Homo sapiens: one gene and its partners. The protein of the gene in region 3 interacts with the protein of the main gene of each other region in a pairwise test. Each region holds a gene or a part of one and is shown on either strand. Other genes may lie near its edges. The genes, in order: INSIG2, BMP10 and KIR2DL3.

Evidence for each region.
Region 1: the proteins of KIR2DL3 (region 3) and INSIG2 interact in binary tests that used the Homo sapiens proteins (3 or more experiments, as listed by UniProt).
Region 2: the proteins of KIR2DL3 (region 3) and BMP10 interact in binary tests that used the Homo sapiens proteins (3 or more experiments, as listed by UniProt).

The regions. Positions count from the first base shown.
Region 1 is NC_000002.12:118,098,351-118,102,003, forward strand, and holds part of INSIG2 (insulin-induced gene 2 protein), read left to right. Parts: intron 1-3,653. UniProt on the Homo sapiens protein: Oxysterol-binding protein that mediates feedback control of cholesterol synthesis by controlling both endoplasmic reticulum to Golgi transport of SCAP and degradation of HMGCR.
Region 2 is NC_000002.12:68,861,389-68,865,041, forward strand, and holds part of BMP10 (bone morphogenetic protein 10 preproprotein), read right to left. Parts: 3' UTR 1-3,653. UniProt on the Homo sapiens protein: Required for maintaining the proliferative activity of embryonic cardiomyocytes by preventing premature activation of the negative cell cycle regulator CDKN1C/p57KIP and maintaining the required expression levels of cardiogenic factors such as MEF2C and NKX2-5.
Region 3 is NC_000019.10:54,744,894-54,748,546, forward strand, and holds part of KIR2DL3 (killer cell immunoglobulin-like receptor 2DL3 precursor), read left to right. Parts: intron 1-2,441; coding exon 2,442-2,492; intron 2,493-3,653. UniProt on the Homo sapiens protein: Receptor on natural killer (NK) cells for HLA-C alleles (HLA-Cw1, HLA-Cw3 and HLA-Cw7). Inhibits the activity of NK cells thus preventing cell lysis.

The DNA of each region.
Region 1 (3,653 bases), on a different chromosome or scaffold from region 3:
GAGCAACTTTGGGAGAGAGATGTTTGGCATTGTGCCTGTTATGGGGAGATGAGGACACTCACTGAGATGAAGAAAGAAAACCAGTGAGCCCAGGGTCCCAGAGCCAGTGAGTGGTGTGACTGGGTCCACATGTCACATGCTGGGGAAGGGAAAAGGAAGCTACTCACACTTTTCCCCCTACTCAGGATGCCACTTTTCAAGCCTCCAGACTGGGTGCCAGACCTAGATGGAATTCCCTGGCGTGTGTTGTGCATTTGGGCTGGGGCAGGAGAACTTAACTGAGGTTTCATTGTACCTCCACTATGAAGAGTAACAGGGCTGCACCTGCTGTCTTGTCCTTCTGCCCCTTTAATGTCAGCACTTTTGCCATAAACTTACATTTTAGGAAGGAAAATTTCAAATGCTAATACCACAGTTCAGCCACTACTTTCCTTCCTGTTCCCAGCCACTAGGTTTGTCACACTTACAAACTTAACCTCATTTGGGGAATTTGCATTTACATTTCTTGCTTAAGTATTTCTTCTGAAAGCAGTTTGTACCATAAGGTACTTGGGCAAAAGAAAGTAGAGAGACATTAGGAAATCTAGATTCCAGCCAATTCTGCTACCAATTTTGTTAGTTAAGTCATGGTGTTTAGTAGATGAGAGTGAAAGATATCAGATTTGTCCAAGTTGCCAGAGATGGAAAATGGATTCTCTCAAAATCTCTGCTCTGCCATCCCCTGCATCATTATTTTAGGGAAAGTATCATGGGAAAAGAAGTAAATGATTTAAGAAACATAGTGTGTTTGAGTTTGTGTGTGTATGTAATATGCATATGTTTTTGTGTATATGTGTTGGCGTGGATTTTCAAGACCTCGCTAGGGTCTTACCATCTTAAGTCAGAAAAACTGATAATCATCCTTTGATTTTCCTGTTCAACTAACATTCATAGATAGAGCAGCCACCTTTTGGAGGGGCTCCAGAATCACCACCTTCTGTGTGTAGAAAGTGCTCCTTGTTATTTGCCACCTTTCTCTATAGCACAATCCTGGAAAATTTGCTAGTGGTGGTTCTGGTGGGACAACTAATAGAGAACTTTGGTAAACTAATTTTGATGACTTTTTTTTCTTAATTCCATATTTTTAGTTTGATAATGCTGATGTTACAAGTTAACTTCCTTATGTGTGCCATGCACCAGAATTGGAATTAGAAATCTTTTCAGCATTATTGAGGGCCACAAAGAAATCTTTCTAAAGAATAAATAGAAAAAGACAACTCGTGTGGATAAAATAAGTAGAGAAGTTGCCTCAAAAATCACAAGTAGCCTGGTTGTGTCCAAACGTATGAAAATAATATCTAATGTAAAAAGAAAAGAAAAATCTTTCCTGTTTAGCTGTGCAGTCCCTTGCCCTATTCCTGTAGAGCCTTGTAAGATTCCTTGCTTTCTCTCCCGTTCTACATCCAGTTTCCAAGTCTTACATCTTTCCTCTGTCTCTTTCTTGGTCCATCCCTCAATGGCTGTGCTTGGAGTCTTTAGTCTTTGCCGGCCTCTAGTTTTGCACCCACCCTTTTCTCAGCCCCCTTGTATGGTACCCTCACTGCTAAGAAGATGGCCTCTCTCTGGTACAACAGTGATGACATTGTTTTCCTGATTGCCCATTGTCTGCAGGGTAAAGTCTTTATAATATGGCCCTTGACTGCTTTTTTCTTCTTCAGAGTCTTTCTGGACCCTGCAGCTCCCTTTGTGTCTGAAGCTTACAGCTTCCTCTTAACACCAGCAGTTTCCAGTTTTCCATGAATGTCCTCAGCCACCTCCCTTTAATGAGAGCACTATTTCTGCGCCATTTACTGCTGAATGCTCCTGCCTCAAGGGTCACCTCTTTCCGTGAAGCTTTTCTGACAGCCCAGCACCTTGCCTTCCCCTAGCACAGGCAAGGAGAAGCCTGGGACCCCTCTGTCCTGTCAGCTGCCCTTAATGCAGGATTGTATTTAATTGTTTCTGTGGTCACTTTGCAATTGGAATCGTATCTTACTCTTTTGCCTTTTTTTTTTTTTTTTTTTTTTTGAGACGGAGTCTCACTCCGTCACCTGGGCTGGAGTGCAGTGGCGCCATCTCGGCTTACTGCAACCTCCACCTCCCAGCTTCAAGCGATTCTCCTGCCTCAGCCTTCCGAGTAGCTGGGATTACAGGCGCCCACCACTACGTCCAGCTATTTTTTTGTATTTTTAGTGGAGACAGGTTTTCACCATGTTGGCCGGGCTGGTCTCAAACTCCTGACCTCGCGATTCGCCTGCCTCGGCCTCTCAAAGTGCTGGGATTACAGGTGTGAGCCACCACGCCTGGCCTTACCTTTTTAAATCTCCAGCAAATACCAAGAACCAGACATATTGTCAGGGCTTAAGTATTTGTTGAAGGAAAATATTATCTTATAGTTTTGCGTCGAAGTATACCTCATGGAGTGTTTTCGTTTATTCAGTTCCTGTTTTCTTACAAAATGTCTGACTTTAACTGTGTTCCTTTTAGTGCCTCCCTGCATTTAAGCACATTCCCATAAAAAAGTGATGACTTACTACTGATATTTTACAAACTTCTTTAGTGTTTAGCTTTGGTAGACTGTAACTAGTCACTGGGAAATAACTTAAAGGTATCACAAGAAATGTGATTTTTGCATCAGAGAACCATTTGATTTATAAGCAGGATTGTGTTTGCATATGATTTTACACAGGCATGATTTTAACAGTCTTTCTTGTTTTTTTTAAAAAAAAGTACAAGAAGAGGAAAAGAGGCCCAGACATACTCTGTTGAGCTCTCAAACAGTGGAACCTCACAGTGTTGTATATATTGCTATCAGACTCTGCCATGCCTTTATTTAAAGGAAAGAAAGAAGACATTTAATGGGAAGTGACAAGCTTCTTCGAATTCTCCCTCTCAGTGAGCAACTGAGAACCATGCATACTCAATGGATTTGATTTTTATTGGCAAATCCCAGGGTTGGCAGTGTGGCAGTTTAAATTTCTTTTTGTGTTTTTGCTTTCTCTCCTCAGTTGTCTCTCACTTGCAAGTCTGACATCACATGCATAAAAATATAGTCGATTTTACTTATTTATACCTTTGCACATACATGTCAGTATTCTCTATGTAATAATTCTTTACCTAGGCATCAGTTGCTCAGGAAAATTGACTTGGAATGTCTGCTCTTAGTTGACTTTACTCAGCAACAGGCAAAGGGAGGATATATATGGTGGGGGGATGGGGGTGACAAATGAGCTGTTAGTTTTATGACCCCTTGAGAAAAAAAGAGGTGATATTCGTTTAACTACATTTCAACTGTTAGGGATGCTTGTTGCCATTTTATTTGTATAGAAATTTTAAAATCCTGTCAGTTAATCTTGTCAGGATTTTGGAGCAGATTTTTAAATAGGAATATAGTGTGAAACTTCTAGATTTACTAATAGTTATTGGAGCTCTGCATTGCCGAGATATGTTCTTAATCTCTTGATGTTCTGTGAGCCATCTATACTCAGCACATGCCTAACTCAAAAGAGTTGTGGACTAGAAAATGCATACAGTATTGCAGCATCTCATCTCGAGATAGAAGGGTGGTCACACAGCCTTTTTCAAATGCTGCACCATTGGTCTGCTAGGCTGTGATTTTTGATACTAATTGGTTT
Region 2 (3,653 bases), on a different chromosome or scaffold from region 3:
GGTTTTTAACTTATGACAAATATTTCACATGCAGAAACACCCCTGTGTACTTCTCTTCCATAGTCACATCTACCTTCCATTTAATGTAGGAAATCAACTGTTCCTGTTTGGGGGCAAGAAAATGCACAGAGTCATACCAGCATTTCCTCTTGCACCATATGTGAGCTTGCAGAACTGCAAAGGGTTGAGAATGACCCACAGTGACTCTGAAAAGATCTACAACCTTAAAAAGGGCAACATCCCTTCTGTGTTCTAGGCAAGTTAAAAAGGTTTTGCCAGAACACTGCTAGGCTTCATAATCTGTTGATGAATCAAGTAAGAAGAATACATAAAATTCTCTTATATGAAAATATCTTTTACTTGAAGAATATAAATCATAACAAATACTGAAACATTTAGTAACAGTTCTTAAAAAAAAAAGGTTTTTGTCATTAATTCCCCGGACCAAAATTTACACATCAGGAAAGAATTCGGCACTTTGGGGCTGACTCTTTTGGAAATCACTAAGCTAACATTTTTGACATTTACAAAGTAATTGGTCCAATTACAAATGAATTTGACCAATCACATCTCTGAATTTCTGGGTCAGTGACGGCAACAGGTGAATTCAGAGGGGAAGTACCAGATTTGGGGGATGAAAAGATTCATTTAAATAGCATCTCCGTTTACTGAGTAGCAATCACATTCTCTCACAGCCTGACAATATTTGCTTCTCATGATAAACTGACAACATCACTTTATGAAACTGCATGACAATGTATTGGTTAAATATTTCCTGGAACATCTACACTTCAGTTAAAACTGTACTATTTACAAATCAGAAAATATACTACAAAGCATGCTTGTAGGCACAGCATGCCTGCAAGACACAAATATACAAAATTATGGCAAGCTATGGCAAGATTCCTTAAACCAATAGAATATTCTGATGCAAAAAGAGAGAGATGGAAATACAGGCCATATATTATATGTGAGCCATACTCTGAAGCCCAGAAGACTCTCTATCCAAAAGGGAATCACAGACATAAAAATAAAATATTTGGTATTCTACAATATTTTACAAAAATAAATATATCAATCAATAAATAGTGGGAAGCCTAGAAACTCTTACATGAATATTTTGGCTGTGGGCTGCCCAAGTCCCTCTGCTATAATTCTCCTCAAGAGTTGTTTAGCTATATCAACTTCGGTGATGATAATTCTGCAATAAAAGGGGGAAAAAAACTGGCATGGGACCCAGAAGAAGGTCTATGACCAGAGAAACATTAGTAAGATTCTACCTTTTTAAGGATCTGACAATATTCTGGCTTCCTGTCAATGCAGGAGTTGAAAGTGACACCGGTGTGCTGCCGGGGTTCCGGTGGGAGCTGGGAGAACTCCTCTACGGGCTGTGTCTTTTCACTTTCTGACAAAAAGCCAAAAAAATACAACTAGCAACATTTGAATAACAATATGTTGCTCTCTGCACTCCCTTTCCACAGGGAAGCAGAAAATCATAGAAATGCAGGTTTACATCTGGATGGGCAGAAAGAAACAACTGGGCTATGCAGCCTGATCGCCAACAGCCTATATTTTCATATCTCTTTAACAGAAGAGTGACTATAAGTGCTCGAGACAAGATTTCTCCAGAAGCCCGGAGCCAGCAGCGCACACAGTGGAAAGCAGGGCTGGCACATCCTTAACATTCTAGTATCAGGGTGCTAATGTCAGCGGTGTGCTAATGTCAGTGGGATACTAAATGTCAGCGGTGTGCCAGCACCAGTGCACAGCTCCCAAGAGCTGACTTAGGTTTTAGAAGTTTTGCAAGCCAGTTGACATCACCTTGGCAGCTCAAGATAGACCATGTAGGAGCGTTTGCAGCATTGAAATCCACAAATCAGGGCTTTTTCTCCCCCTGGATTGCTGGTTGTAAGGGTTTTACCAGCACACCACTGTCATATGTATTAGACATAAAGAAAATTTGCTTAATTTTTATCTAACCAGGACTATCCTGGTCAGCTGAGGTTTTACTGTGTATGTATTACAGTGTCCTTTAGAAAGGATAAGAAGTACCTTGGAGTATGTGAGTATACATTGTGTACCATGGAGTATGAAGGATGCACCACGTTCCACTGAGGGTATTAAGCGTGGTTATTCAAAGCCAGCTATACATCACACACACATACACACATCATGTTATATGGAGGCTGTTCCACAAATAGTGATTCTGAGTTGCATGGCTTTCTCAAAGCATCAATCACTGTATACCCACTGACGGTCAAAACACCACTCTTCCATGAGCAATGAATTCCCCAGGATTCACCCAGCAGACAACAGATCTAGCGAGCTGAGGTTCAAATTGGGCCTTCTTCAAAATAGTTTTCCTTGCCTCTATTGTCTAGTGCAGTTTGAGTTTATAACCTTAAGAGATTTGTAAAAGGGGACTGATTGTTTTCCAGGGTAAAAAAAAGAAAAAAGTGTCAGACTTCTTAAGGAAGCATTCCTTAAGATGAGTAGGGGTGAATGGGGGATGACGTACTGGAAACCACATTCCTGGTTCTAACAGGAACCATCCATGTTCCCTGCCTGGAGATGCTGGAACAGTTTGGAAACTGCTCTGCTCTGCTCTGGTTCCTCCTGCACAAAGCCCAGAATATGCTTGCCAGGTAGAGGGAAATGGTTAGGGGTTAAGACTGGAGGCTGCCACCTGCCAGGAAAACCCACCGGACCCTTCCTGTGCAGAACACTTCCTCACCACTTTCAGTCCTGGCCAGTTGCAAAATGGGAAGATGGTAAGATGAGAAGATGGGAAAGTTACTGGGTTTCTACCATGAAACAATCATGATTTCAAAATTCAGGCTTGGCTTTTGAGTCATTTGCTTGTGTGTCTATTCATAAATTCGTTTATTTAAATCCATTCATTTGGACTCTGGTTTTCTTTTTCTTATACTTACTTATTCTGGTTTTCTTTTCTCTTATATCTAAGTATTCTTCATGAACAAAACATTTGATAAAGGATATTATTAAAATAAAATCAAATTAAATATCACGGGAAGATTTAGAAATTAGAACACTAACTCCTTTCACCCTGAGAGCAAAGGCACTTAGGTGTCCCTTTCCAGTTCACAGCATGCATCATGAAGGCCAGGGAAGAGCAGGGACACAGGGATGGGAGGAAGGTGAGAGGCACTAGGGCCAAGAAGAAAGAGGGAAGGAAGAAGATGGAGCAGAGGAAAGCAGGGGTGCTGAGACAAGGGAACAGTGTTAACAGGTGAAGAAAGATATTAACATCCTTTCTTCCAACAGACAGACCCCTTCTGATTTTCCTCCTCTTAGTCTTTGATACTTCTATTTTGTCCAAAAGATTTAATTCTTTAAACAGAACCACTTTTGGTTTTACAGACACATCTGAGGATAGCCTCTGAGGATAACATCAATATCCTCTTCCCTTTCTCCCTTTCTCCCCTTCAAGTACCCTCCCAACCCCTCTACTCTCTGCAGCAGCAATGGCCAGTACTCATGGCCTTGCTTTCCTATTGTCTCAGGAACAGATTTCATGCTGGTTTCTTCTGTTTTCCTGCCTTGACCAGGAGTTGCCCTCTGGAGCACATTGGTCCTCCATGGGTTCATTTTTTCCTGTTGTACCTCTAAGACCTCTTAAGTCCATTTGGTTT
Region 3 (3,653 bases):
ATATACACACACACACACATATATAAACATATATATATATATATATATATATATATATATATTTTTTTTTTTTTTTTTTTTTTTACCCTCCACCCTTTTATTCCTGGCCTCTGGAAGCCACCATTCTACTCTCTACCTTCATGAGATCCACCTTTTAGCTCTGTATATGGGTGAGAAATGGGAATCTTTGTAATGACTTCCAGTTCCATCCATGTGGCTGCAAATATCAGGATGTTATTCTTTCTATGGATGAGTAGTCTCCACTGTGCGTATGTACTACATTCTCTCTATCCATTCATCCACTGATGGGCAGGTAGGTTGACTCCACATCTTGGCTACTGTGAACAGTGCTGCACCAATCATACGAGTGCAGATATCACTTCGATATATTGATTTACTTTCCTTTGGATATAAACCCAGTAGTGAAATTGCTGGATACTATGAAAGTTCTCTTTTTAGTTATTCGTTTGTTGTTTTGTTTTTGTTTTTGAGACAGTTTCCCTCTGTGCCCAGGCTGGAGTACAAGTGAAGTCATCTTGGCTCATTGCAACCTCCGCCTCCTGGGTTCAAATGATTTTCCTGCCTCAGCCTCCCTAGTAGCTGGGATTACAGGTGCACGCCACCATGCCTGGCTACTTTTTGTTTTTTTTAGTATAGATGGGGTTTCCCCATGTTGGCTGGGCTGCTCTCAAACTCATGACCTCAACTGAGGTGCCCGCCTCGGTCTCCCAAAGTGCCGGGATTACAGGCATGATCCACCTCACCCAACCTCTTTTTAGTTCTTTAAAGGACTTCCACACTTTTCTCCGTAAAGGCTGTACTAATTTACACTCCTACCAACAGGGTATTAGGGTTCTCCTTTCTCTACCACTTTGGCAGGATTTCCTTTGCCTGTCTTGCAGCTAAAAGCCATTTTATTTTATTTCATTTTATTTTGAGATGGAGTTTCGCTCTTGTCACCCAGGCTGGAGTGCAGTGGTGCGATCTCGGCTCACCACAACCTCCACCTCCCAGGTTCAAGCGATTCTCCTGCCTCAGCCTCCCGAGTAGCTGGAATTACAGGCACACGCCACCACGCCCAACTAAATTTTGTATTTTTAGTAGAGACAGTGTTTCTTCATGTGGGTCAGACTGGTCTCAAACTCCCGACCTTATGAGGTTCACCCACCTCAGGCTCTCAAAGGTCTAGGATGACAGACGTGAGCCACCACGCCCGGCCTAAAATCCATTTTAATGGGGTGAGATGAAAACTCACTTTGATTTTAATTTGTGTTTCTCTGATGATGAGTGAAACTGAGCACTTTTTAGTATGTGGGGAAATTTCATGTGTTTTGCTCCTTTTTCAATTAAATCGTTTGTTTTATTGAGTTGTTTGAGCTTCTTATATTTCTAGTTATTAATCCCATCTCAGATGCATAGTTTGCACATATTTGCTCCCAATCTGTGGGTTGTCTCTTCACTTTGTTGGTTTATTTTTAGCGGTGCAGAAGTTGCTTAGTTTGAGGTAATCCCAATGGTCTATTTTTGCTTCGATTACTTGTGTTTTGAAGGTTTAAAACAAAATGTCTTCCTTCAGACAAATGTCCTGGAGCATTTCCCCAATATTTTCTTCTACGTGTTTCATAGGTTCAGGCCTTAGACTCACATCTTTAATCCATTTTCATTTGAGTTTTGTGTATAGTGACAGGTAGAGGTGCAGTTTCATTCCTCTGCATGTAGATGTCCAGGTTTCCCTGCACTGTTTATTGAAAAGACTGTCCTTTCCTGATTGTGAGTTCTTGGCACCTTTGTCAAAGTCCATTGGATGGGCTGGGCATGGTGGCTGACACCTGCAATTTCAGCACTTTGGGAGCCCAAGGCGGGTGGATCACCTGAGGCCAGGAGTTCAAGATTAGTCTGGCCGACGTGATGAAACATTGTCTCCACTAAAAATATAAAAATTAGCTGAGCATGGTGGTCAGCACCTGTAATACCACTACTCAGGAGTTTGAGGCCAGAGAATTGATTGAACCCAGGAGGCTGTGGTGGCAGTGAACCGAGATTGCACCTCTGCACTCCAGCCTGGGTGACAGAGCGAGACTCCATCTCAAAAGAAAAAAGAAAAAAACATTGGAGGTAAATGCATGGATTATATCTGTGTTCTTCATTCTGCTCCATTGTTCTACGTGCCTTTCTTTATGCCAATGTGATGCTGTTTTGCTTACTACAGCTCTGTAACATATTTTGAGATCAGGTAGTGTGATGCTCCTGTTTTCTCTTTATACCTTGAAGTCTCAAGACAGTGGGCGTCACATACAAAAATTACGGAAAAAAGGATCCCAGGACTCCCAGGGCCCAATATTAGATAACAGAGTGTTGGCCATGAACCAACCTCAAAGATTTCCATTGAGTAGAGGACAGACACCCTCATTTCCTCACCTCTCTCCTGTCTCGTGTTCTAGGAAACCCTTCAAATAGTTGGCCTTCACCCACTGAACCAAGCTCCGAAACCGGTGAGTACAGAACCCTCTTATATCCGCTTTTGGAAACCTGGGGAGGTAGAAACCTTCGATGCAGGCATTGACTCAGCATCTCGCAGCTCTGACATTGTACGCCTGTCTTCTACCATCTCCGAACTCCAGATACTCCAACAGCGAAAGGGATCTGGGCCCAACCTAGGGCTCAGTGAAATCTCTTAATCTCTCATTTTATGGAGCTGAGACCTCCTACAAGCTAGAAGAATGATTGCCAATCTGACATCCTTCTCAGGAAAAATGCAATGTTTGTTCTGCCTGCATTCCTAACTGGAGGATAAATTCCTGGGGGCTTGAGAGAGGGAAGGGAAGGGAACATCTGATGAGGGCGAGGTGTTTTAGAGAAGTTCCACTTGCCAAGGAATGAATTACTGTTGGTCATGAAGCAACCCTGGCTGACTCAGCAGAGCAACAGCCTTGCCGTAACAGAGAACGGAGCTCATGCACGCACACTTCGACTCACTGACTCATTCAGCCACGGCCCCATGCTCAGGCTGTGCAGTGCGGAACCTTTTCCTATTGTTGCCATAACAAATTTCCACAAGATTCGTGGGTGAAAACAAAACGGTTTTTTAATTATCTTACAGTGCTGTAGCTCAAAGTAGGAAGTGCATCTTACTGGGCTAAAATCAAGGTGACAGCAAGGCTGCCTTCCCTCTGAGGATTCCAGGCAAGAATCTGCTTCTCACTTATCCCAGCTTCTAAAGGCTCCCAGTTCCTTGGCTCCTGTTCCCCTTCCTCCTTCCTCAAAGCCCACAAAGACTGGTCACATCTCACATGGCATCACTCAGTGCCTTCTTCCTTACCACACCTCTTTCTCTGAATGCTGCTCTCCCTTCTTCCTTATCTTTTGAAAACTTGGGGATTCTATTGGGTTCACCAAGATGAAAATCCCTCATAATCTCCTGGAAATCATCCAGGATACCCTTGTTTTAAGTTCAGCTGATTAGCAACCGCAATTCCATCTACAATCTTCATTCCTCCTTTCCATGTAAAATAACATATTCACAAGCTATGGAGGCTAGGACAGGGACATTTTGGGGTGGGACAGCATTCTCCTGCCTTCCACAAACGGTGAACAAGATGCATTTGGCTTCTGCCCTTGGGACACTGATATTGCAGATGGTTAAATGGGAGGGC